3 linked regions of the Homo sapiens genome follow. The protein of the gene in region 1 interacts with the protein of each later gene in a biochemical or structural test. Each region holds a gene or a part of one and is shown in the gene's direction. Other genes may lie near its edges.

The links. The genes of interacting proteins can lie anywhere in the genome.
Region 2: the proteins of LGALS8 (region 1) and TRIM6 form a complex in vitro, tested with the Homo sapiens proteins (one study listed by BioGRID).
Region 3: the proteins of LGALS8 (region 1) and TRIM49 form a complex in vitro, tested with the Homo sapiens proteins (one study listed by BioGRID).

What each region holds. Positions count from the first base shown.
Region 1 is NC_000001.11:236,519,942-236,526,992, forward strand, and holds the start of LGALS8 (galectin-8), read left to right. Parts: upstream 1-4,040; 5' UTR 4,041-4,120; exon of another isoform or gene 4,121-4,567; intron 4,568-6,026; 5' UTR 6,027-6,129; coding exon 6,130-6,174; intron 6,175-7,051.
Region 2 is NC_000011.10:5,591,829-5,599,653, forward strand, and holds the start of TRIM6 (tripartite motif-containing protein 6), read left to right. Parts: upstream 1-4,808; 5' UTR 4,809-5,069; coding exon 5,070-5,086; intron 5,087-7,825. Other genes in the region: TRIM6-TRIM34 (tripartite motif-containing 6 and tripartite motif-containing 34), read left to right, coding at 5,070-5,086.
Region 3 is NC_000011.10:89,805,559-89,813,232, reverse strand, and holds the start of TRIM49 (tripartite motif-containing protein 49), read left to right. Parts: upstream 1-4,657; 5' UTR 4,658-4,796; intron 4,797-5,948; 5' UTR 5,949-6,134; intron 6,135-7,674.

The sequences.
Region 1 (7,051 bases):
TGTACAATTTTTTTTTTTTTTTTTTTTTTTTTTTAGACACAGTTTCACTCTGTTGCCCAGGCTGGAGTACAGTGGTACAATCTCAGCTCACTGCAACCTCGGCCTTCTGGGTTCAAGCGATTCTCATGCCTCAGCCTCCCGAGTAGCTGAAATTACAGGCATGCGCCACAAGGCCCAGCTAATTATTGTATTTTTAGTAGAAACAGGGTTTCACCATATTGGCCAGGCTGGTCTCAAACTCCTGACCTCAAGTGATCCACCTGCCTCGGCTTCCCAAAGTGCTGGGATTACAGGAGTGAGCCAACGTGCCTGGTCAAAATTTTTGTTTTCGTAATTTTAAGTATGTGTGTAGTAAGTCTCAATGGAAATGTAATTCTTATGGCAGGTCACTTGAAAAAAAAGAAGTCTAAAAGTCACCAATGTAGTATCTTCTCTTTAAAAAAAAAAAAAAAACAACAGGAGAAAACCTGAATCTGCCCTTTGCTCCACTCCTTCCTCAGCTATAATGCTGCTTCTCCATTCCTCCTCACAGCAAACCTTTCTGAAATCTTTATAGTCATGGTTTCCACCAGTTCTTCACCTCCCATTTCTCAACACACTTCAGAGTCAGAGTCAGCAATGACATCCATGTTCCTAAGCCCATTGCTTACTTCCGTCCTCCTTGGCCTCTCAGCACACTTGGCACACAGGCTGTTTCTCTTTCTTTGGCATCTGTGACACCACTCTCAGCAAATTCCCCTGGTTGTCCCTTCTCAGTCTCATTTATTGGCGTTGTCTTATCTCCCCAGGGCTGTCCGAGGTGATTTTCTCCCACTACTCTCCTAGGTGGTGCCATCCAATCTCATGATGTCATATCATTCTTCCCTCATGCTTCAGCCATACTGGTTGGTGGCCTTTGTTTCCTGAACACATTTAATGCATTCTCAAGACCCTCAGGGACTTTGCAGCAGCTGCTCGCTAAGGCTGGAATGCTCTTCCCCACCATCTTCATATGGCTGTTTCCTTTCTTTCACTCACCAGCAGCTTAAACTTTGACTCCTCTGAGAGACTTTCCTTGTCACCCAACTAAGGTTGCCACTCAGGTGCTCCCAATTTAATCTTCTCTAAAACACATCACTGTATGTGTCCTCAACTAGAGTATAAGCTTCCTCGAAACAAGAACAATCAAAACTCCTTGCCCTCATGGAGTTTATAGTCTTATGATGGGTGAAGTAACATAAAATAAAAAGGCACCTTATATAGTATATTAGCATGACAAATGTTAGCCAGAAATAAAGCAAGGAAGAGTTGCTAGGGAGTGTGTATGAGTGTGTTTTGGGAGAGTGTTTGCAATTTTAAATATTGGTGGTCAGGAAGGGCCCCACTGAGAACTGACATTTGAGTAGACTTGAAAAGGGAAAAGGAAATATTGAGTAAAGATTTTAGGATGGGAGTGTGACAGGCCTGCTAGGAGAATAGCAAAGTCGCTGTGGCTGCTGCAGAAAAAGTGAGAAGGAAAGTAGTAGGAGATGAAATCACAGTGTGTGAGGATTCGGGCAGATCAGGAAGTGCTCGTGTAAGAACTGGATCTTTACTCAAAGAATGAGCAAAAATTAGTAGACGGTTGGCCGGATGCAGTGGCTCACACCTGCAATCCCAGGTTACAGGAGGCCGAGGCGGGCGGATCACTTGAGGTCAGGAGTTCAAGACTAGCCTGGGCAACATGGTGAAACCTCATCTCTACTAAAAATACAAAACTTAGCTGGGCATGGTGGCGCGCACCTGTAGTCCCAGCTACTCAGGAGGCTGAGGCACATGAATCACTTGAACACGGTAGGCAGAGGCTGCAGTGAGCTGAGAATGTAACACTGTACTCCACTCCAACCTGGGCAACAGAGTGAGACTGCCTCAAAAAAAAAAAAAAGTAGGTTTTAGTAAGGGATTAACATGATCTGAATTATGTTTTGTCATGACTTCTCTGGCTGTTGTGTTGAGACTACATTGCAGAGGGGCAAGGGCAAATATAGGGAGACCGATTAGGATACTGCAGTAATAATGTAAGAGATGTGGGACTCTATCTAGAAGGGCCCATGAGGTCCTTTGCATGCTAGTATTCTTTACTGCTGTGCCTGGCCATGATAGGCATTCAGTGAATATTTGCTTATTTAAAATAACACACTGGGCTAATTGAACAACAGTGCCAAATGAGGGAGATATTTCTAGGAATAAGTTCTTAGGATTTATGAACATTTTAATCCAGATTTTCTTTGTTAACTCTGCTCTCTGGCCCTTTCACTCAGCCCCGTTTGCACCTAAATATGACTTACAAAAGAAACACAGCATTTATGTGTACTTATTTCAACTTATTTTAGCTTTGTAAAGAAGTACAAGGTTGACTCAGGGCCCAGCTTGGTGTCTCATGCCTGTAATTTCAGCATTGTGGGAGGCCAAGGCAGGAAGATATTGTGAGCCCAGGAGTTTGAGACCAGCCTGGGCAACACAGTGGACCCTGTCTCTACAAAAAAAAATTTTTAAATTAGCTGGGCATAGTGGTGTGCGTCTATAGTCCCAGCTACTCCTGGGGCTGAGGTGGGAGGATCACTTGAGGGAAACCCTGTCTCAAAGTGGCGGGGCTGGGGGGAGACTCAGGCAGAATTGTGAAGATATTCAATTGCTCCTGACTTTATCAATAATCTAACATTTCAACCTAACATTGATATCTATTTTATGCAAAGCATTACACTATGCACTGGAGACTGTATAAGACAAGTTCCTTTTCTCAAACTACAGTCGAGTTGGATAGATAAAACACACAACACATACCAAAAGACAGCTATAAATCCAAGGCAGTGTATGTCAAGGGTAAATTCACCTATTCAGATTGGATCTTGAGAAGTGCATCAGGCTTGGAAAATGGGTAAGGAGGAGAGAAAAGCAACAGTGAATCAGAACATGAGTTCCCAGTTATGGGACTTGTAATGAATTCCTCAATTAAAACAAAAAATAATGAAAACAAAAGCCAGGGAGGAGAAAGCCCACGTTAATGACACTAAAATATATCTTTCCAAACAAATGTGGATAAAAGCCAAGTAGAGAAGATGAGAACTTTGAGGTCCCTAACAGAAAATAAACAGTAAGCAGCCAGCCATTCCAAGTGGCTGACATGACTTTGTTTAACTTTATTTGTATTTCTGGCTGGTGTGTTTACAGCCAATAGGTCAAACTATCAGTCAGTGTAGGGCCCTGAGAAGTCGGGTATTTAAGAGCATCTAATAGGCACAGAATTGTGCTCCATACTGCTTAAACTGTTCCCTAAGTGTCCAATTTGGAGAAAACACCCACACGCAGGATAACTGGCGAGTGACGCGGAGTGGCTGCGAGTCCAAGTTATCACTAACGGATGGGGAGCTTGGGCTGGGCACAGTCCAGCGTACTGAACCCTTCCCCCACCGTTTCACCTGCATACAGAGGTGTGTACTGTCAAAAAGCAGCGCCTCCAAGTCTCTTCTGGCACTGTCTGGACTTGGATCCGAGGCAGACGAGGAAGCTGAGAAAACCCTGGCGTTGACCCCGTGGACCTGGGCGCCCCGGGAAGGCCAGCGCTTGGTCCAGGCAGGCGGGGCCTGTGCGGTGACCACCCTGGTCCTGAAAAGTCCCAGCCCCGAGCGCCCTCCCTCCTAGACCTGGAGGCCTGGAACAGCCAGGTGGACGTCGGCCCACCTTTCTTTTCTTTCCTTCCCATTTTCCTACCACCTCCCACCCCACTCCGCCTTCCGGGCAAAGGCAGCCAGATCCACCCAGGACACATTCTTTGTCCTTATCCCTCTGTGCTCGTCCCACAGCAAGCCAGTCGCGGTCCAAGGCTCCAGAGGCTGTGCAGGAGGCCGAGCTGGGTGGCGATCAGCGGCGGGTCCCTGTCCAAAACCCAGCAGAGCCGCCAGGGACGCCCCAGACACAGAAGGCGGGGCGCGGGGAGGGTGGGGAGACCACAGCAGTGAGGCGCGCGAGCCGGGAAGTGAACGAGGACTGACTCCTGTCGCTTCCCGTAGCCGCCCACGGACGCCAGAGCCGGGAACCCTGACGGCACTTAGCTGCTGACAAACAACCTGCTCCGTGGAGCGCCTGAAACACCAGTCTTTGGGTGAGTCGCGCGACCCCCGGCCTCGGGTGGCGGGGCAGTCGCTAGAGGCGTGGCTGCTCTGAGGGTCTCGCCAGTGGAGGATGGCATTCGGATGTCACGGCTCCTAAATCACCATTTGATGGGTGGGACAGTGTCCAGTCCACCCCGACCCGCCGGTCCTCACCGCGGCAGAGCCGGGGCTGGGTGGCGGGGACGCTGCCTCTGCAGGCGAGGCGCTCCGGGGCATAAGGGATTATCAGGAGTCGCGGCCTTTCTTGGACATCCCTGGCTGGGGTCAGGCTGTTTGCCCTGGGGTGTCTCCTCGCTGCAAACCCACCCCACCTGGGCTGCTTTCTCACCTGTTCCCTCCTAGCCTGAGGCCGAGCGCCACCTCCAAGTGGAGGAATCTGGGGAAGTTTCCTTCCCGGAATTTGTAGTGACAGTGGAGTGACCTCCATTGCGTTCCCTGCCTCTAACACGCTCTTTAGGATGCCGAGTCATTTGACTGCAGTGTTAAACATTGCAAAGCGCAAGTCATGTGACTTCCTTTGACCGTACGTGAAACTTAAGTGATGGCTGCTTGTGATGCATACGAAGTGTTCATGCTGGCGGGACCTGTCCCTGGGGATACTTCGGGGGTTGCGTGATTTAATGCAAGCAGATGGCTTAAATTGGGTCACTGGCTTGTTATTATACATGTGTATGGCAACTCGGCATCCATTCTTTTTGCTCTTGTTCTTACTTCCTGAATTGAGTCACGGAGCCAGAGTTTTGAGGTTTTGACTAACGAATTAAGTTAATGACATGGGGCTATATTTAGGTGGTAAACCAAGAGGGATACAGTTTTTTTTCTTAATAAAGAAAAAGTGATAGATTTGATCGGTGTGTATTGTTGGTGTGCAGTATAATGACAGAATTGCTGGAAGTAAAATACAGGAAGCTCTGGTTTCATTTCCCCTTTAGTTCTGCTTAAAGTCGAGTTTTTCCTGGAGCTATTAAATGTAGTGTAGTGTCCATGAGTGCTTTTATCTTAAAAAATGTGGCTGATGCTTTCCAACACTCCCCTGCCCTGTGATTATTATTTTTTTAAGCAACAGAGAAAACCGTATCTTAATAGTATTAAAAGTATTGGATTTTTCCCTACTTTGATTTGTTTAAATTGGAGGAGGAAGAGCAATTCTTTCTATTCACAATAATAATAGCTAACATAGCGCTTACTCTTTCGCTGTTTTATTAACTCAATCCTCAGAACAAACCAATGATGTGAATACTGTAATTCTCATTTTATGGAAATGAAAATCTAAATGAATACCTCTGGTAATTGTACGGGACTGTTTGATTAGTATTTACCATTAATTAATTAAATTTTTTTTTTTTTTTGAGATGGAGTCTCGTTCTGTTGCCCAGGCTGGAGTGCAGTGGCACAATCTCGGCTCACTTCAACCTCCGTCTCCCAGGTTCAAGCAATTCTCCTGTCTCAGCCTCCTGAGTAGCTGGGACTACAGGTGCATGCCACTACGTCTGGCTAATTTTTGTATTTTTAGTAGGGATGGGATTTCACCATATTGGTCAGGCTGGTCTCTAACTCCTGAACCTCAGGTGATCCACCCGCCTTGGCCTCCCAAAGTGCTGGGATTACAGGTGTGAGCCACCATGCCTGGCCTATTTTAGTATTTTTAATAATAAATTCCATGTTAGAAATTTTCTACTGATGTATTTTTTAAGTCAATATTTCCTACACTCACAATCCAAAATTATTTAGTATATGAGCACACTGGTAAGAATGGGAGGCAGATCGTTGATTGTAATAATATTCTATTATTTGGTAAATATCAGTAACATAATATATAATTTAAATTTTAAAATAGGATATGAAGAAAAATGCTACATGCTTACTTTTCTTTTCCTCTATTTTTACTTTACACAGGGCCAGTGCCTCAGTTTCAATCCAGGTAACCTTTAAATGAAACTTGCCTAAAATCTTAGGTCATACACAGAAGAGACTCCAATCGACAAGAAGCTGGAAAAGAATGATGTTGTCCTTAAACAACCTACAGAATATCATCTATAACCCGGTAACTGATTTCTATAAGATAACTTTTTACCTATGCCAGGACAGATCCAATAGAATATTAATTATCCATTGGGAGACAGGGCAAGAATAAAAGCCAGTGAACATATTTAAAGCACCTACTATGTAATAGAGATGGTGGTGGGTGCTGATTACAAAACAGCTCTTGTCCTCTAGTGGAGGAAGAAGTCACAATGATAATATGACGTGATGAAACAGTGTTATGAACAGGGAACGTCTGGGTAGAGTGGAGGGAATGCCAACTTTTGGTGATGGGAGGAGGCTCAGCTAATCATAAATTGTAGTTTTTAAAGGAAAATGGATTTCTTACTCTACAAGTTTTTCATTTTCTTTTTTAATTAGAGCTGTCCATGAGAAGTTAATGTCTCGATCTTTCCCTCAGCCTTTCAAATACTGCTTGGCCCTTGAGCAGGGAAAATGTCAAAAGCCAATGGGGAGATGGAGAGTGTGAAGTAGTAAGGGTCTCGTGCAGTTCAGGCAGGTCCTAGAATCCCTGAATGACTGTAATTGCTGGAAATTGCCCTGTAATCCTGAGCAGTAAAGAGCTTGTTTTAGTTTTATGTGGTGGTGAGAATCTTTAGGAATGTCTAGTTTCCACGTATCTGAAGCTGAATCCTGAATCGAGGTCTGAAAAAGGACAGCCACTTTTTTAGTAAACCGCCTAGAAGATTCTTGGGCAAAAGGAAGGGTGAGAATCCTTAAAATGAGGCCCTAAACCAGTTTTGTTAGTGTGTGTGGGTTCAAGTTTTTGTCATTTACTTTATAGCTGTATTTCCTTTTTCCCTAAGTTTTAATGTCATTGTGTAAGAATGAGGTATCGCTGCTGTATCAAGCAAAGTCAGTTTTAGGAGAAATAGCCT
Region 2 (7,825 bases), on another chromosome or scaffold:
TGGGTTCCACCTGTGGTTGCATGCTTGGTTTATCTAGGCATGTTCAGGCTATGTGACCTTTAGCCCCGGGGGGCTGTGGCAATTGAAAAACAGCTCACAACTATGACACTTAAAAGTTAAACCAGATGAGTCCGCTGAGGTTATAACATCTTGTTTTTGTTCTACCTGTGAGTTAGTTACTCACATGGACTCTGGAGCCCAAAAGAGGTCTGATCTATAGTTAATGTTAGGACTTTGTCAGCTAGGAAACTGGATGGGATTATCTAGGAAGGGGATTTAGAGAAAATGAGATAATAGGAAAGAAACAAACAAAAAGCTATATTTAAGTGACTAGCTTGATTTTCTTCAAATTGACTAGAATGTGAATATATGCACAGCAAAATTCATGTTTTATTCATCGGTATTACTCCAGAGCCCTGCCAAATGCTTGGTACTTCATTATAGTTAATAATGCTACCTATCACTCACTGACGAGCTATTGTGTTTCAGGGACTGTCCTAAGTACTCCACATATACTTGCATATTTAGTCTTCACAATAACTCTATGCAGTAGGTATTTTACAGATAGGGAAACTGAGGCCCAAGAGAGGTTAAGTAACTTGCCCCAAATCATACAGATGGTAAGTAAATGAGCTAGGATCTGAATCTTGGCAAAACTGGTTCCAGAGTCCATCATCTTAAATACCATCTTAAATACCGTGCTATATGACATATATAGTTTAATATGTGTCTGCTGAAAAGAAAGAACAAAACAAATTTTTAAAAAGAAGGAAGGAAGAAAATATAAAATATCAAAGGAAAGATGGGGCCAGGCGTGGTGGCTCACACCTGTAATCCCAGCACTTTGGGAGACTGAAGTGGGTGGATCGCTTGAGTCCAGGAGTTTGAGATCAGCCTGGGCAACATAATGAAATCCTGTCTCTACAAAATACACAAAAATTTACCCGGCACGGTGGTGTATGCCCTTAGTCTCAGCTACTTGAGAGGCTGAAGTGGGAAGATCACTTGAGCCCGAGAGTTTGTGGCTGAAGTGAGCTGAGATTGTGCTACTACATGCCAGCCTGGGCAACAGAGTGAGATTGTCTCAAAAAAAAAAAAAAAAGAAAAAAGAAAAAGAAAAAAGAAGAAAAAATGAGAGGAAAGTAGGGAAAACAAGAAGGATGGAAAAAAGAGAGGGAGGAAAGGACCAAAAAAATGCATTAATTAGGTCCATGTTTGATGATCAGAAGCATCTGAAAACAAAATTGGTGGCTTGTTTCTCCTACATCCCTAAGCCTCTGGAACAAGAGGTGTTTCTCCCTGAAATTTGTTTTCATTTGGTTTTACTGAAGTTCTTCCTGTAATCAGATGTTAACAATTATCTTTCAGAAAATCCAGTTAGGCCTATCCTGAATTCTCAAGCATAAACTACCCTGATTCTTAATCTTAGCCTTGCAATATCTACTTTTTTCTTTTCTTTTGTTCCCATCAGCTCCCAGCTGGTAGTAATGAGTTAAGAAGGGTTTTCCATGAGAGGGGCAGAAACATTTCTGACAACAGGAATCATCTAACACTGCTTTCAAACAAGTTGTACTGAAAAAATATACTAGAGATTTTTTTCACAGGAAGTCTCTCTCCTGTGAATATATTAGAGATTTCCTCAAAGAAAATATATTCGAGCATATTAGAGATTTGCTCACAGAAAATCTATCTCCTGAGTTTGTATTTTTTTTATCACTATTTGGCTATGAGAATATTCTGTGACCCTTGTCATGGTCCTGTTTGCTTTTCCTGAAACCTCTTTCCTATCAAATGTTAATATCCACTTATTGCTATTAAGAAATCTTGACACCTCAACCTGTGCACTAAACAATATTCCTGGTATATACTGAGTATTTAATATTGAGTATTGTAATAATAACAGGCTGGCTCTGTTGATACCACCCTGAGTCTAGAACTGCAGCAGTGGGTCCTGAGTCTAGAACTGCAAGTACTCTGAGTATTCAGGAACTTGGGGCTGTCAGCAAATCTGTGCCCTCTTTACCTTCAAACCTGTCCTACTGGATGCATCATATTACCCCACCAAACCTCTGGATCCCACATACTTGGTTCCCTTTTAACACTAACAGTATTCCACTGTATTGGGTATACCACTTGTTTTTCAATACATTTAATACTTGATGAACAGTTGGGTTGATTCCATTTTTTAATATGAGTAAAACTGCTATGGACATTTGTGTACAAATCTTTGCACGGATATGTTTTCATTTCTTTTGAGTAGATTCCTACGAGTGGATTTGATGGATTATGTGGTAAATTTATATCTAACTTTTCGAGACCCCTTGAATTATTGCCAAGTACCTTCATTTCTTCTCAACCGTCAGAATGCCCAATCTCCCTGTTCAAGATGAGAAATTATAGAGAAAATAAAAACTGCCTTGGTTAGCAAACAAAAAGGAAAAATTCTGCACACTGAGAAACAGTCTTTCATTCTGTTTTTTGTTTTCTTTTTTGTTTTGAGACTGATTATCACTGTGTTGCCCAGGCTAGAGAGCAGTAGCAGGATCATGGCTCACTGCAGCCTCAACCTTCCGGGCTCAAGTGATCCTCCCACCTCTCAGCCTCCCAAGTAATTGGGACTACAGGCACGTACCGCTATGCCTGGCAATTTACTTATTTTTTTTAGACAGGGTCTTACTATGTTGCCCAGGTTGGCCTCAAAATTGTGGATTCAAGCTATCCTTCCACCTCGGCCTCCCAAAATGCTGGGATTACAAGCGAGCCAACATGCCCAGCCAACATCCTTTTTTTTTAACTGAGCCTACTAGCCCCAGAAATGAAGCCCTATGCTGACAAGACTATGGAGCCTGTAAGTTACTTCCATTTATATCAGCTCTTAGAAAATGGCCTGAGAAGGGACTCTGGGTTGGGCTTCTCCATCCCTTTTCCAATATTTCTAACCCTCTGGGTGTCAATCATACCATTTTGTATTCCAAGGGACTTAAATGTTGGCTGGGCCAGTGGCAGGGTGGTGTCCATACTGGGCAGTTTGGGTGGGGTCAGGAGAATTTCAGAGCATAAGCAGGCTTTGACCTGAAGCGTCATCCAGGGGCAATATGGAGGCAGCCATACCTAAAACCGTTGTGAAGAAAGCTACACAAAGGGTGATCTGAAATAACCTTTGCGTGGCTTCTTAAGCCTGCAGACATGAGGTAGTCACTGAAATAGTGACACATGTCTGCACTTACGAGATTCCAATGACCTTTCATTTGCCTGGGGACTGTCCAGAGAAATCTCTTGATACTTAACCCAGCTCTCTCCCTACTGCCCAATCCTCCGTCCAGACTTTTGTATGGACACCCCAGTCCCTTCTCTCTCTATACCTCCCTCCCCAAGCCACCTTCTAAGGCAAGGTGATACTCACCTAATCAGTCTCCTTAGGGAGGAACTTTGACATTCTTTTTCTTCTCAGAGTTTCTGTGCTATTGAAACCCTGTAGTTAGAGTTCTGAGGCTCAATAAGCTTTACATGTATTCATCAGACCTAAATAAAAACAAAGATTGTCTTCTAGTTATATAGGTCAAAATTACAGATACACACACACAGCTTTATACATACATACGTGTAATTTTAAACTGATGAATTTTAATGATCGTTTGGCAAAACATGCCATTATGCAAAGGGGCTTTTACTCGTATAACTTTATATGTTTATTTAGACATTTTAATTAATACGTCTATATGGAGTACAGGTGTATTATCAGTGTAATTAAACTCTGATATGATATTAGAAAGCTACAGTACACTGCAGACAATTTACAAGGGTCATCTCTGGCCTGGTGTTCTCAAAGGCCTCCGGATTTGCCGTTCATCAGGTAAGATGAACAGCTTTGCGTTGCTACCTTCAAAAATTCTTTTTTTTTTTTTTTGAGAGAGAGTCTCGCTCTGTCTCCAGGCTGGAGTGCAACCTCCACCTCCCGGGTTCAAGCGATTCTCCTGCCTCAGCCTCCCGAGTAGCTAGGACCACAGGCGCGCCCAGCTAATTTCTGTATTTTTAGTAGAGACAGGGTTTCATCATGTTGGCCGGGATGGTCTCAATCTCCTGACCTCGTTATCCGCCCGCCTCGGCCTCCCAAAGTGCTGGGATTACAGGGGTGAACCACCGCGCCTGGCCTCAGAAACCATCTCCATCTCCCTTACCACCTGAGGGGTCACTGGTGACCACACCCATGGAATCGGCTGGATCTCCTGCGGGGCTGGACAATTTGACCCTCCTCCTCCCCAGGCCCCGCCCCTTCCCCCCTGAGTCTTTCGGCCTGGGTGGAGGACGCGGCTGCTTCAAGTCCTTGGCTCTGATCCAGGCCACAGATTCCAGGTTAGTGAGCAAGTTTATTTTCTGGCCAGCTACCGCTGTCCCCACTTGTCTGGAGAGTTTGACCCGCTCTGCAGGTCGGGTTGGGGGTGGTTCACGGGTGAAAGAAGAATGAGGGAGACTTCTGCATTTTCAAGTGAACTCAAGTTTGGGAAGGGAGCACAGAAGAGGCACCTTTGCAGCTGGGAATAGGCCGTGTAAAGAGAGTTAAACCTCTATTCTACAAGCTGAAGTATGTAGAGGAGGCAGCTCTGGAAACTGCTTTAGGGAATCACTGCAAACCATTTTGTCAGGCGTGGATTCAGAGTCAGCATCCCTTCCCCCCTTCCCCCGTTCTCCCCTTCCCCCCTTCCCCCTTCCCCCTTCCCCCTTCCCCCTTCCCCTCCCCCATCTCCAGCCTGGCCGCTCCAGGAAGTGAGCACCGTTTATCCCCCACCCCAGGCGGCCCGACTCCTCCCAGAAGGAGTTGGGAGATGAGCCTTCCGCAAACTCCTGACCTGTGGGTCCGTCCGTTCAACGGCCAAAGGCTGGCGGAGGAGGGATCCCCTGCCTTTCTCGGAACGGAACGGAGCAGAGTCGTGCGTGGTTGAGTTTAGATAAAAGCCGAGTGAGCGCGCTCTGTTCCTTAAGATTAGTTTAAGGTGCCTTGGATTGCTCTGAAGAGCTTTGACCACCTGATATTGCTTACATCTGGAACTTCTTGGCTTCTCATTCCCCAGATGTGCGGGTCAGAGAGGTATGTCTACCGTTCTGTTGACTGGCTCTTATTGTCACTTCTGGCAGAGGTGACAGGGCAGTGAAAGAGATAAGGTCCTTTCCCTTTCGGAACTCATTATATCTTTATTTCTTTTTCTTTCTCACTGCAAATGACCCCACTGAGGTTAGAGACATTTTAATCAGTCAGTCAATAGAGACAGAAATGTGTGGTTAGGAGCATAGATGCCGCAGCCAGACTGCATGTGTTCAAATCCTGACTCTGACAGACACTGGCTGTGTGCCCGAAGACTGTTAACTTGACTTCTTTGAGCTTTAGTTTCTTCCATCTATAAGATGGACGGAGTAATATGTATATCTTAGAGTTTTGGTGAGGATTGAGTGAGACAGATTTAAACACGTAGGAGGCTGCCTGACACAAATTATGGTCATTATTACTGGCAAACTCCATGCCTAGCTTTAAAAAAATGCACAATCAAAACAATTTTTAAATTATAGGTTTCTGAAATGCAGGGGGTAGAAATTCTTTTGAAGTGGAAATTAAATTTTTTGTTTTGAAACTGATTATGTTCCAATTCAAATATTTATTGAGTCCTGTTAGATAATCAATTGCAGATAATAGGTTAAATATAACCCTACACAAAGATAAAAAAAAATGTTATTCCTAAAGTGCAAGAACTCATGCCCAACTCACTTATAAATGCAACTGCCACCTATTTTATTCCACTTTCACTAGGGCTCCCAGCTGGTGGACGGGCCCGCTCTGTCATTCCTAACTCTGAACCCCCAGCCTACACCAGCCCCAGTATCCCCTGCTGAGTCACTGATTTTTATTCTGAAAGCCATTTTGATATCGATGCAAGCTTCCATTCTAAAAGATGCTTCGTATCTAAATAGCAGGCCATTCTCTGTCCCCCTCCCTCTTCTAGCTGTTTTGCACCCTAAATTGTATCCACCTGGGAAAGAAGGTCCTTTATCTAAGGCAGTGCTTCTGAAGCCTTAATGTGCGTAAGAATCACCTAGAGAACTTTAATATTAAAGTGCAGATTCTGAATCATTCCAGGAAAGACTGAGATTCTGCATAAAGAACTCCAAGTGCTTGCAGTGTTGCTAGTTAGCAGACCTTTTTCAGGCGTCTGGTTCTGATTTAATTGGTCCCACCTGGTTGTGAATTTGGGCTCTTTCTTCTGCTAATTTGATGCACTGGGCTCTGGGACTGCAGGCTCTTCTCGTCTGCACTCCTCACAGTCAGAATGCCTTCTCTCAGCCCGTCCACACTGCTCTGGAGACTTGGCCTCAGTTGGAAACTGGCAGCCTCCCATATCTCCCTTGGGCTGCACTTAGCTGCAGTGGGCAGTCAGGGCTTGCTGGTGTGTGGGCAAGGGTCACCTATGCTAACTGTATGCTCCCCTCCTTCACAATTTCTTTCCCAAGCCTCAGCTTTGACAAGAGACCTCAACTCTTACAAATCTTTTTTCTGCTCAAGAATTTTTCTCTGTCTAAAGAGAGTATTAGATGAATATCTACAGCGCATATTAGATAGGAAAAAGACATATAATGAACTAGAAATAGAATGAAGCCACATATGTAATGTTACATACTCAAGTAGCCTCATTAAAAATAAGCGGGTGAAATTAATTTTAATACATTTCATTTAACCCAATACATGCAAAATACAATTAGGACATGTGATCAACATAAAAAAATTAATAAGATCCTTTAACTTTTTTAAACTAAATCTTCAAAATCCAATGTGTATTTTGTACCTAAAGCAACCCATTTCTGAGTAGCCACACTTCAAATGCTCAAGAGCCATATCTGGCTACATGTTTGACAACACAGTTCCATTATGCTTAGAAGATCAGAAACCAAGCTTTTAATTTTTCTTGTATTTTTTTGTTTCTGTCAGTTTATTGAGTTCTATCTAGTAAGTTACAAATTGTAAGCATACAGTTCTGTGAATTTTCACAGTTGCAGTCAGCTGTGTAACCACCACCATGATCATGATACATAAAGGGCATTTCCCTTTATGTATTCACCCTTCAAATTTCCTTATGCCCTTTGCAGTTCAAACTTTTCTCCCACTCCTGGGCCCTGGCTTCCACTGATGTACTTTCAAATACCATAGCTTTCTCTTTTCTAGGATTTCACATAAATAGCATCATACAATAACTTAAATTTGATGTTTGGGTTCTTTCACTTTGCATGCTTTTGAGATTTATCTTGTTGTATATATTAACAGTTTAATTGTTTGGTAATATGCCACTGTATGGATACACCACAGTTTGTTCATTTACCAGTTAGTGATGTCATGGATTCTTTTCAGTTTGGGACTATTACTACATTGCATTTATGAGGCAGTAGTTCTCCTTCAAGAGAATTGGGTACGCTAAATACAGTTTTGCCTGAAATGAAAGTGTGCATGTGTTTGTTGGGGAGGATGAATTGGAATTGGACTTTCAATTAAAATATAATACCAATACAATTATTATATTTATTTATTTATTTATTTATTTATTTATTTATTTTGAGACGGAGTCTCGCTCTGTCGCCCAGGCTGGAGTGCAGTGGCACGATCTCGACTCACTGCAAGCTCCACCTTCCGGGTTCACGCCATTCTCCTGCCTCAGCCTCCCGAGTAGCTGGGACTACAGGCATCCGCCACTACACCCAGCTAAATTTTTGTATTTTTAGTAGAGACAGGGTTTCACCGTGTTAGCCAGGATGGTCTCGATCTCCTGACCTTGTGATCCGCCTGCCT
Region 3 (7,674 bases), on another chromosome or scaffold:
AATGGGAGGTATCCACTTAGCCTATAGGTGCTTTCAACTCTGACTCAGCAAATTATAGGTATTAACTTTCTCTGTGGCCTACTCCTCACACCCTCCTAACCCATTCTTGCTCAATATTCTTCTTAAATCTGCATCTAGGTTTGCTATCATATTACCATCCAAATAATAATTGATTTGGATGTATTTACATAATGCAAAGTTCTTTAAGTAACTAATAACATTTACTTAGCATTAATTGGTCCCTTTCTATGTATGAAGCAGTGTTCTACTTGCTGATACCTACAATATTTTTCATAGACTTTAAAATACATCGGCATACACAGTGTGAAATCATTTTTGTGTGTGCTTGTTATTTAGGTCACAATATAAAATACATACTGCTAGAATTCTAATAAAAACATACTGCACAGGAATGGTGAGGTAGCATTTAAATCGGGAAAGTTCAGCTTGACAGGGTCCTATTACCAGTGCATCCTGTTAGACTAACAACATTCAACATCATAAGTAACACATCAGTAACAAGCTCTTAACTGAGACAAGGTTAGAAATGTGTATTTTTATTTTATAAATAATCTCTGAAAAAGACAGCCTTCTTAAGCACAAATATCATTTATTATGGTATGTTCAGTCCTTTTCAATTTTTTACTTTCAAACAATATTCTCAAATATATTTAGAAAAAGGTTTTAAGGTATAGTATTTCATTAATGCTCATCGTTTGGAAAAAAAACCCAACTGGAATACAAGCACATGAATTTGTGTTTATTTTTTTAACTGTGGATTATCATGGTATTTAATCTACTTATTACAAACAATTTTTGAAAATAGTAATTGATATAACTTGAGACTTTTCATCAAAATTTGAAGACATCTAACAATATGCATAATGAATTTGAGTTGGAAAAAATGTGTAATACAAGTAAAAACAAAAATGCATTTTCCATTCCTACCTGGAGAAAAAAAAGATGAAATAACATACAGGTTGAGCACCACTAATCAAAATATCTAAAAATCCAAAATACTCCAAAATCTCAAATGTTTTGAGCTGTGAAATGTCACCAAAAGTGAAATATCCCACACGTGACCTCATATGAGAAGTTACAGTCAAAACATATTCTCAGTGAACAAAAGACTCTCCCAGCCCCTTCAGTTGCAATATATCTTTCTGTGTCCACCTAGATGCCCCCGAGCAAGAGCACTCACAAAGGGTAATAAAATGGCATGTGTACACAAACTTTGCTTCATGAATAAAGTTATTTAAAATATTGTCTAAAATTATCTTTAGCCTATCTGTATAAGGTGTATATGAAACATAAATTTTGTGTTTACACTTGGGTTGATACACAAGATATCTTATTATGTCTATGCAAATATTCTGTAATCCACAAATATCCAAAACCTGAAATTCTTCTGGCCCTAACATTGTGAATAACAAACAGTCAACTTGTATTACATGGTTTTATAATGGATTTATTTGAAAATGTGACTGAAATCTGTGGATGAAATTTTACAAACATCAGTTTAAGCCAAATAGTATTATTTTGTATAGCAGAAGGGGATACACTGGGTTTATTTCTCCACAGCATCCAAGTAGAATGTGACAGGGGTAAGGAGGAAAGATTTCTGTATGTAGTACTCATGATCCTTTGGGCTTAGGGGAGGTAAAAACACAAGATATGCTAACCTTACATTCTGCTCTGTTCCTTGGAAATTTTATAAACAACACTTACTGTTGTTTATAAACAAGAATGGATTCCAGTGAAGGGAAATGGCTAAGTCCATGAGCACCATTAGAACTGGCAGGGTTCAGGAAAGAATGTGAAAACTCTACTCCACAGTACTCGTTTTTCTATACTGTGCTAGGAAAGATGAATGGAAAACAAATTTGGCAATGTAATGTCTGCGAACAGGATACACAGCCAGATATGGGAAGAATAAAATATAAGAATCTTGTGTCTACTGAATCTAGAGAAGAAAATGTTCTGTTAACTCTTTGCTATGAAAATGCTTCGAGGCTGGGAACCGTGGCTCACGCCTGTAATCCCAGTGCCTTGGAAGGTCGAAGCAGGAGGATTGAGTCCAGGAGTTTGAGACCAGCCAGAACAGCATAAGAAGACCATATCTCCACAAACAATTTAAAAACTAACCTGAAGTGCGGGTGTCTGCCTGTAGTCAGAGCTACTCAGGAGGCCGAGGTTGAGGATCACTTGAGCCTAGGAGGTTGAAGCTGCAGTAGCTATGATCCAGCAACTGCTCTATAGTCTGGATGACAGAGTGAGACCCTGTCTCTAAGAAAAGAAAAAAGAATAGAAAAGGAAAAACATGATTGAAATCTAAAACCTAGAGTGCTGTTTGTAACTGTTGCCTCCATTATTTTCTCAAGGAAGGAAACCTATTTGATTCTGATTTTTACAGCCTAATGATAATGTAGCTATATTCAAGAACTCAATGTTTCATTCATCAGAGGAAGAAACTTCAGAATGTAGGCTGAACCTCACCTGAACACACAAGCACAGAAGGAATCATATGTGTTTCTGTGGCTCTAAGTGAGAAAATACGTTGAGAGATTTGAGGATTTATGGAGTTGACGACATGTAATTGATCCCTGAATCCATCCCATACAGGAAACAGGACCATAAAAAGATTGCTTACGACCGGGCGCGGTGGCTCACGTCTGTAATCCCAGCACTTTGGGAGGCTGAGGCGGGCGGATCACGAGGTCAGGAGATTGAGACCATCCTGGCTAACACAGTGTAATCCCGTCTCTACTAAAAGTACAAAAAAATTAGCCGGGCATGGTGGCGGGCGCCTGTAGTCCCAGCTACTCGGGAGGCTGAGGCAGGAGAATGGAGTGAACCCGGCAGGTGGAACTTGCAGTGAGCCAAGATCACGCCGCCACTGCACTCCAGCCTGGGCGACAGAGTGAGACTCGGACTCAACAACAACAACGAAAAGCTTACCTTTTATGTGCTCATATGTAAAGTTGGGACAATGCTACACATATTGCATGTTTTCTGTGGAGATTAGGAACAATGTGTGCATGGAGACAGCACAGTAACTGGTACATCATAGCCCATGTATCACATTGTCCCCTTCCTTTTTCTAACATATTTCTCTCCACTCAAATAGATAAGAGGTTTCAAGAGAAAATGACTGGGGTTTGTAGAAAAATAGACAATAAACGGGTAAAACAATTGAGAAGAAATGCCAAAAAAAAAAAAAGCGTTAAAGAAAAGATAGCCCTGGACATTCAGGATCCACAAAGCAAAATATAAATTTGTGGAAAATTAATAAATTTTGTTAGCATGGGAAAAAATATGCAGAATTCTCTCCATGTGCGCAAATAAAACAAACAAAATGTCAAAGTAGTTATAATACCTAGGTTTTAAATGGTATTTATCATAGAATGGCATTTTTATAAAAATTTAAAAATTTCCAGAATTAAATAAAGTCAGATTTCTACATATGTTAAGGAACGAGAAATAGATCACCAACTTTCATACAAAGATTTTCCAATGAGTTTTAGAACCCAGATGAACAAAAGAGTCTATTACCAGATTCTCAAAAATAGATGTGTAATTCAACAGAAAACTTTGTGGTAGAGGTAGGTTTCAGATGCTAGAATGGAAACAGTCTCATGTACAAAAAAGTATCTTTTTTATTAAAAGGAGAAGCACTGGGAAATAAGGAAATATTCCAAATTGGCTGGAGTGTCCTTTATCCACATCACGGATTGTTCTTGCCTATACCCACCTCTACTCTCTCTTCTGGATTGGGTAGGACTTTTGGAACCTACAAAATGCCAACTCTAAAGAGAATTACTTTCTTATATTTGTTTCATGGTCTGAGACTCAAGTAGGAAAATAGGTTGTTTCCTTGATAATGCCACAGTAGACAGAGGTAGGTCTGTAATTGAAAGCTCCTAATTTCCAGTGCTCTAGGCTTCAACTGCCTAAAGCTGAGTGTTTGAATAAGTGAATGATGTGGTGCAAAAAGTGGTTGAAATAAAATCAGAAGCTACCTACCTTCCTTTCTCTCCTTGCCCTAATTCCTTCCTGATACACAGCATCATCAGACCTTGTAATGGAGTACCAGGGCCCCGCCACGGAGCTCCAGAATTTAAGCAGAGAATGTCCACAGGATCAAGTCCATGACCCAGGGTTTCACAAGTTTCCCACTCTGGAGTCCAGGACTGAGCCAAGAGGGCCCCCACACACAACCAGCGCAGATCTTACTTCTGTGTGGACACTTTGGTTAATTACTTAGATTTATTGAGGTACAGAATGTGCATACAGGGTGGTCAGTCAGTTGGTGGTCTTGGATAGTAAACTGACAATAGAACAAGAAAATCTATTGTTCAATTCCTTGTATTTAATTAAATATAAACTCTGGATGATTTTATGATGTGTCAACTTGAGTACATGTATGTACAAAGAGGGAAATGAGGGCAGTAGCCATTTTGTGGCATAGACATACCTTATTATTCTTCAATGAAACACTTACTTAGGACCTGCTGGAAAGGCATTTTGCAGATGCGAGCAAAGGTCCTAATCCTGTAACTAGGAAGTGTACCCAAGTAAGCCTGACTTCATCAGTGAAAGTCCTTTAAAGAAACACATAGGCATTCCTTGAACAACATTTTAAATGGCAAATGGGACTCTAATCTTCCAGTTGCCCCCTATTGACTTTAAACCAAAGCTTTGATTCATGACCACTGGGATCCAGCCAGCGGGGGATTTCTTTTCCTGATGGACTGTACCCAGGATCTCACATTTGCTTAAGCAGCTCCCACAATTGGGTAAGTCAAGTCTTTGCACTTAATTCATATGTGAATCTCCCTAACTATACATATATCTTATGGGTTCTGCTTTTGTCTTTGAACCTGGACAGACCTGGGTCTGATAGATTTGTCTTCACTGTTTTGACAGTCTTGACCATAAGTCTTCTGGACCATTGGCAAAGAATTCCTCTATCAGAAGATATTTGAGTAGTCCCTTCTGAAATCTCTTTTTTAAAAAAAATAATTTTCATATAACAACAAAAAGACTTGGCATAGAAAGAAAAATATAGTCCATCTCTATCATTTGGATTCTGTATTTGTGAATTTGCCTATATGCTAAAAGTTATGTGTAATCCCCAAAATAATTCCCGTGGTGCACTCCTAGTCATTGTAGGACATCATGCACTATATGGAGAAAAACGTTAAAATCATAACTCATCTTTCACCCATGAGACTGGTGAAGTTTTGTAAATTCAATGAGAGACCCCAGGTTAGTGGGTTTATTTGGTTAATCAGTGATTTCTCTTAGAGTGGTAGAAAACAGAAAACAAAAAGGAAAGTTTTATCTTCCATTGGACTTCTCTGGAAATATCCTATAAATGTACTAAAGCAGCATTTAAGCTGGATGAGGTGGTTTATACCTGTACTCTTAGCACTTTGGAAGGCCGAGACCAGAGGACCACTTGAAGCCAGGAGTTGGAGAACAGCATGGGCTACAGAGTCATACACTGACTTTACCAAAAATTTCAACAAAAAAAATTAGCCAGGTGATATAGTGTGAGCCTAAAGTCGTAGCTACTTGGAAGGCTGAAGCAGGAGGATTACTTGGAATTCAAGGCTGCAGGGAGCTATGATTATGCTACTGCACTCCAGAAGGAGACCCTTTCTCTAGAATAAATAAATGTGCACTTAGAGGAATGCCTGTATCATGGAAGAAACTCAATAAACAGTATAAAATGCATCTTAGTTAATTTCTAGCCTATGTATGCTCTGACAGGATTTATGTTACATATGATTCATTCAGGCACTGGTGTTCAGAATGAAAGTGTGATGATAATTTAATCAGAGCTGCAAAGGTGTGTTCTAAATACTGCATAAACCTAATCATCTTTGTCTCCACCTTTCTGAATGCTCTAAATACCCATAAAGAGGTGGGTGTGGTCTTCACAGGTTCTTATAAAAGGACACGGAAGAGACAAGCTCAGTTTTCTCTGAAGGAGAAGGACTGCACTTAGAACTGCATTTTGGCGACCTCTGAAATTCAGTACTGCAGTGAATGAGCTTCTGATCTTGAGGTGAACTTAACAAAATTATTTTTGGAAAAATCGTTGTGGGAACCATTAAAAGAACTCCAGGGTGAGTGAAACATATTGATAAAATTATATCATCTTTCCTTTACACAATAATAAATTAGAGTGTTAAAAATATCTCATTATCTGAAATCTACACAATGATACCATTTGTAACTCATGTTCTTACTATAGATTTTATGAATTATAAGGATACTAATTGTTGTTATTTTGTGCTTTCTATGATTGTTTAATATAGTTCTGAAAAACTTAAAATATCTAGTGTTTGCTGCAACAGATATGTATTCATAATGAATATATGGAGTTGATACATATATGTACACATAGGTGTGTGTGTATATGTATGTAATGAGTGTATTAATATTGTCAAATTGAATTGAGAAGACATTAATGAATGATGAAGTTATTTGCTTTCATAACATTCAGGTTTTAGACATGACTTTAAATTAGTAAGGTAATGATGAGCGATGCAAAATAGTGAAACTAAAACAATGAGAAAGCTCCCCAAAATATCCTACTTTAGAAATCAAAACACAATTTTTCGAACAAGTAAATTTATAAGACCTAATATGGTATGTGATTGTGATTGTCATCTCACTTGAGTCTCAATCTTATTAAACTGTGAAAAATTTCTTAAAATGTCTTAGATGAGTTCTGGAAAATATTTGCAATTCTAAGATTTTTCACTGCTTTCACTTAAATTCAGAAGTGATATAAAACTAGCAGCTTTATGCTGCTTTATGCTAAAGGATTTAAAATTGCCAAAACAAAGATTATAGTTTTTATATTAGTCAGGGTTCTCCAGACAGAACCATAGGATGTATACATATATGTGTGCAGATACATTCATGGGCCATTTGAGTCAGCCACAAACCACATATGGGGGTCCCATAAGATTATAATACCAATATGTTTACTGTACCTTTTCTGTATTCAATTATGTTTAGATACACAAATAGTTATCATTGTGTTACAGTTGCCTACAGTATGCAGTACAGAACATACTGTACAGGTTTGTAGCCTATTGTAGGAACAATAGGCTATAGTGTATACCATAGGTGTAGTAGGCTATACCATCTAGATTTGTGTGGTATATTCTATCATATTAAAACAATGAAACCGCCGGGCTGGGCACTGTGGCGCGTGCCTAGAATCCCAGCACTTTGCAAAGCCAAGGCAGGCAGATCACTTGAGGCCAGAAGTTCAAGTGCAGCCTGGCCAAGATGGCAAAACCCCATCTCTACTAAAAAAATACAAAAATTAGCCAGGCCTAGTGTCACGTTCCTGTAATCCCAGGTACTTGGGAACCTGATGCAGGAGAATCGCTCTGAACCTGGAGGCGGAGGTTACAGTGAGCCGAGATCACGCCACTGCATTTCAGCCTGCGTGACAGAAGGATACTCTGTCTCAAAAAAAAAAAACAAAAAAAAACTAAAAACACCTGACACATTTCTCAGAACATACATCTGTCCACAAGCTATACATGATTCTACATGGGACAGAATTCATCAGGAAAATTAATTTGCTTGATTATGGAGTCTAGAGAGTTCCAATATAGGCTGTCTCTAAGCTGGTGTCCTGAGAAT